Regions from separate parts of the Homo sapiens genome. Here region 2 is linked to region 1. A link means that fine-mapping ties the variant in region 1 to the expression of a gene that starts in the linked region. Tissue or cell type: whole blood. Region 1 holds a variant in brackets; the other region holds the start of a gene. All regions are shown on one strand. Distances are from middle to middle.

Evidence for each region. PIP is the estimated chance that this variant, and not a neighbour inherited with it, causes the effect.
Region 2: NINJ2 starts here. The variant in region 1 is fine-mapped to the expression of NINJ2 in whole blood (INTERVAL, PIP above 0.99). The same link has a PIP of 0.9 or more in left ventricle.

The regions. Positions count from the first base shown.
Region 1 is chr12:608,966-611,646 of GRCh38, reverse strand. The region is part of intron 1 of NINJ2 (ninjurin 2); the gene reads left to right. Among named protein-coding and RNA genes, the nearest start is that of NINJ2-AS1, 21 kb to the left of the region's middle. RefSeq lists enhancers at 1,215-1,716, 1,970-2,486, 2,487-2,681. The variant A/GA (reference allele first, on the strand shown) is at 1,618.
Region 2 is chr12:662,409-665,089 of GRCh38, reverse strand. NINJ2 (ninjurin 2) reads left to right here and starts at 1,645. Exons shown (of 4, transcript NM_016533.6): 1 at 1,645-1,762. The coding sequence starts at 1,730.

The DNA.
Region 1 (2,681 bases):
AAAGCCCTGGGAGCCGGGCACAGTGGCTCATGCCTATAATCCCAACTTTGGGAGGCTGAGGCAGGCAGATCACTTGAGGTCAGGAGTTCGAGACCAGCCTGGCCAACATGGTGAAACCCTGTCTCTACTAAAAATACAAAAATTAGCTGGGTGTGGTGGTGTGCCCTTGCAATCTGAGCTATGCAGGAGGCTGAAGCAGGAGAATTGCGTAAACCCAGGAGGTGGTGGTTGTAATGAGCCAAGATCGTGCCACTGCACTCCAGCCTGGGTGACAGAGCAAGACAAAAAGAAAGAAGGAAGAAAGAAAGAAGAAAAGAAAGAAAGAGAGAGAGAGAGAAAGAAAGGAAGGAAGGAAGAGAAAGAAAGAGAGAGAGAAAGAAAGAAAGAAAGAGAGAGAGAGAAAGAAAGAAAGAAAGAAAAAGAAAGAAAGAAAGAGGGAAAGAAAAAGAAAGAAAAGGAGGAAAGAAAAGAAGGAAAGAAAGAAAGGCAGGCAGGCCTGGGGTTGATGTGCCTCTTCCTCTATCGTAACTTAGGGCACAGAAAAGGAAGTTCTTGGGACAGATTGCAGAACTGAATTTGGTAACACAGAGTTCTTTAAAGAATAGATGTCCAGCCTAGGTGCCGTGGCTTATGCCTGTAATCCCAGCATTTTGGGAGGTTGAGGCAAGTGGATCACCTGAGGTCAGGAGTTTGAGACCAGCCTGGCCAACATGGTGAAACCCCGTCTCTACTAAAAAGACAAAAAATTAGCCAGGTATGGTGGTGGGTGCCTGTAATCCCAGCTACTTGGGAGGCTGAGGCAGGAGAATCACTGGAACCTGGAGGGCAGAGGTTGCAGTGAGCCGAGATTGCACCATTGCACTCCAGCCTGGGCAACAAGAGCGAAACTCCGTCTCAAAAAAAAAAAAAAAAAAAAAGAATAGATTTCCAGTGCTGTGGTTGTCCTTGTCATAGCCCAGTTCTGCTAAACAAGGTTGAGTTGAAGTTGTCTCCTTCAGACTCTAGAGCCACATATTAAGTCCCTGCCTGGTAACCCCCTCCTGTGGCTGGGCTGAACAGAGTCGCTCAGAGCAGCTAACCCACCAGTGAAGCTGTGGTGGGCATCTGCTGCATGCAGGGCCCTGGGCTGGCCGCTGTGGGGACCCACGGGGGCAGAAGGCTGTGCTCGCTGACCCTTTTCCTCTCAGCCACCAGGCTGACCTCATTTTCCGTTGAGACTTCCTGTTCTCCAGTAATTGCTTGGTGGGGCAAGAGGCTTCAGTTCCAAGTCAGCAAATGGGATCTGAGTCATGATGTATATGGTAAGTGTGCCTCTGGCCACGGGATCTTCACCAGCTCAGCACTGGGTGCTGGGCACTGGGGACTGGGCAGGTGAAGAGGGCTGCCAGAGGGGCTGTTTCACTCACGCAAAAGCATTGATTCTGTGTCTGCTGGGTGTCTGGCAATGTGTGTGTGCATGTGCACTTGTCAGGATGGGGAAGGCAGGAGGATGGAAATGACTCTGCAAAGTTAGAGCTCAAAATGGACTTTGTAGCTTTTGGCCCCAGTGATGCCAGATGAATTAGGCTAGTAGGACAGCTGGGAGTGGAAAGAGGCCCAGACTCAGAATCGACTTGG[A/GA]TCATGCTCTAGCTACAACAAAAATGTGTGACCTTCCATGGTCAAACATTATTTCTCTCCTTCGTCTTTTTTTTTTTTTTTTTTTAAGACAGGGTCTTGCCACTCTGTCGCCCAGGCTGGAGTGCAGTGGTGCCATCATGACTCACTGCAGCCTAGACCTCCTAGGCTCAAACAATCCTCCTGCCTGAGCCTCCTCAGTAGCTGGGACAAGTCCCCTATTGCTGCTGTTGTTGTTTTCCCTATTTTTTTTTTTTTTTTTGAGGCAGAGTCTCACTCTGTTGCCCAGGCTGGAGTGCAGTGGTGCAATCTCAGCTCACTGCAAGCTCCGCCTCCCGGGTTCACGCCATTCTCCTGCCTCACCCTCCTGAGTAGCTGGGACTACAGGCGCCCGCCACCACGCCCGGCTAATTTTTTTTGTATTTTTAGTAGAGACGGGGTTTCACCATGTTAACCAGGATGGTCTCGATCTCCTGACCTCGTGATCCACCCGCCTCAGCCTCCCAAAGTGCTGGGATTACAGGCGTGAGCCACCGCGCCCGGTGTTTCCCCTATTGTTTTAAATAAAAGGATGATAATGCCTTGCTCAGCTCACAAGGACTACAAAATGGAAAAGAGAATTGGGCTGTGAGCCTTGCGAAGGCCCGCTCTGCATTTTACTCATCTTTGCGGCCCCTTCAGCACCTAGCGTGGCGCCGTGCGTGTGCGTTCAGCACCTAGCGCGTGGCGCCGTGCGTGTGCGTTCAGCACCTAGCGCGTGGCGCCGTGCGTGCGTACAGCCCCTAGCGTGGCGCCGTGCGTGCGCGTTCAGCCCCTAGCGCGTGGCGCCGTGCGTGTGCGTTCAGCACCTAGCGCGTGGCGCCGTGCGTGCGCGTACAGCCCCTAGCGTGGCGCCGTGCGTGCGCGTTCAGCACCTAGCGCGTGGCGCCGTGCGTGCGTTCAGCCCCTAGCGTGGCGCCGTGCGTGTGCGTTCAGCCCCTAGCGCGTGGCGCCGTGCGTGCGTACAGCCCCTAGCGTGGCGCCGTGTATGTGCATGAATTCTTCTGTGAGCGAGTGTTGCCTAGATT
Region 2 (2,681 bases), 53 kb before region 1:
AGTTGGAGCAGCCACATCAGAGCAAACTCTGCTGGAAGTGGGGCTGAGCTTGCCTTTCCCCTGCCCTTCGTCAGCAGCCCTCAGTCCCCATGTGCCTAAGGGGGCTCAGGAGCACTGGTCAAGCATCTCACAGGAAAATTTCGAGGGGCTTATCTTAGAGATGTGGGCCACTGAGCGGATACAGTGGGATGGGGGCACATACAAGTCAAAGCCAGGTCTCAGGATGGTCCACATTGCCACGAGCCAAGGTAGCGCAGACAGCAAGGGAGAACACTGGATCTCAAAGGCAGAAAGAGAATCACCCATGAGTGACTCTGGCCTAATATCAGACATCAGCCACCAAGGCCAGCAGAAGACCCAGGAGCAGGACCTGTGTCTCCTCAGCAGTCAGCAATTCGGGCGGGCCCGTGGGCCCAGCAGCTCCAGAACAGAAAGGAGCCGAGATGGAGAGGCCACAGGATAGATGCAAGAACCGTCCCCACCCCGCCCTCCTGTGCACCTAGGTGCCATCTTCTGCAAATCCGAAAGACTGAGCATTGTGTCTAAAGTGGACTGTTTACCATTTAAATGATTAAATCCAACTATGCTTCATAGATTAGACTAAAATATGGCCCCCATCCAATCATCCAACCCTCCCTCGCACCACTGTCCAGAGGGATGGGAACTTATAAAGGCATTTCATAGAACTGAAGAAATCGCCTTTTTTTTTTTTTACATTTGAATGTGGTGAGGGTAAACGTGTTGACTCTGCCTGTCTTCCTCCTGCCCGCACCTCTTCAAGCCCTGAATTGGATTACAGGTTAACACCCTGCCATGCACGTCTACAGACATACCCACACCCACACCTGCACAAGCTTGTGTCTAAACCTTGCTTCAGGAACAAGCCAGAAGAGTTTTGGGCTCTAAGGTAAACAGGAGAGGAAAAAAAAAACTTTCTAAAAAAAGACTCCCTCCTGGTAATTTTATTTTAAAAGTAGGGAGAATACCACTGTTTGCATAAACAAGCTTCGAAGGTACAACTACTCCCTGCTCCCTCTATGGCTAATCAAGGGAGGAGTTGAAGGAATCAAACAATCCGTCAGTAAAAACGTATTGTTCACTCACTTTGCAGAACAAAGCCTATGCTTTGGAGCCTATTAGGTAAACTACAATTTTTTTAAAAACTTTTAGGGATATAGGGAACAAAGCAAAGAACAACGGAAATCCCTCTGCCTCAGTATTGAGACTGTGCTGGAGGTCACTCCACCCGTGGCGACTGGGGACTGGACCCAGCGGTGAAGTCAGATAGCGTTGTCCTCAGGCTGTTTTTCAATTTGCTTGATAAACATGCAGGATTTCTTTGCCAGTCATAAAGCTACTAGCTCAAAGCAGGCTGGGTGACCTCAGATGGCTCCGCTGGGACTGGAAGGTCACTGGAGCCACTGGTGAAAATGATGCTGTCACTACCAACTCAAAAGGTCACCTATCAGTGTGCCATGTGCCACCTCCTGGAGCACACACATGTGCACACACATACACTCACACGTGTGTGCAGGTGCACACCTCCCCCAGAGGCTGCAGCCAAGACGGGCATCCCACATCAGAGGGATGAATGGCAGGTCTGTCCCGCCAGCTGTGTGCTCTCTCCCACCCGAAGAAAGCAGCAGAGACTCAGACGGCGGAGCCTGGAGGAGCCCACGCAGTCTGTTCCCGGCACCCGGTGCGTGTGAAGGGACTTGAGGGCAGCGAGATGGAATCAGCAAGAGAAAACATCGACCTTCAAGTAAGTTCTCTCTGGAAGAGAGCAGAGGGGAGACCGGGAGTAGAGGTGAAGCTGGAAGAACAGAGGATTGATACTTTAGTCACTTGATATTCTCCCTCCCCGTTCTCTTCTTACTCACTCCCTTCTCCAAATGCTCCCTAGGCTTTGTCTCTTTATTTTCTCTTTCTCTCTGTTTCCCTATCTGGTTCTTCACTTGTTTTGAAATATCTGAAAAACAGATTGGTTAACTCCCTTTTGGCCTCTGCTTCCTCTTGTCAGTCAAAGAGCTAATTAGATCCGTATTACCAGAAAATGATTTCACATTCTGAGCAGTGCTTTCCCCAAACCCCAGGACAGTAGAGACTTCTCTTAGAGCTGCCGGGGAGACAGGAAATATATGAGTTTTGAGGCTAGGAAGAGAGGCAGCTGGCCAACTTTGCATTTTACAGGTTGGAAAAAACTTGAGCCGTTTCTCGGCTGTCTTCACAAAGCTCTACTGTGTAGGACAGAAAGCGTCTCATTTGGACAGTGCAAGGAAAGGAAATCAGTCTAATCTCCTAGGAAGAGGCAGAGATGTGTGTCCCTCTGTAGCTGGGATGGGCTTGGAAGGCATCAGAGGTTCCAGTCCACTGCTGGAGGGGAAAGGGTGGGATGTTACGGTGAGAGGAGAGCCAGATTGCTGGGAGCTGCACTCTGTGACTCCTTGCCAATGGATAGAATAGAACGAACCCTTCTATGACCACTGCTGAGGCTGTGTAACATTGCAGAGAATCAAACAAAGTGTGGAAAAGGACTTTTGAGATCAAGAATTTCTGATCCCTGAACCTGGTCCTCGAACAAAATCTTAAGCAGCCACCCAATATACACTTCGGATTAAAGAAGAGCTGTTTTGTTGAAGCAGAGTATGTGCACGCGTCTCTCTCTCTCTCTCTCTCTCTCG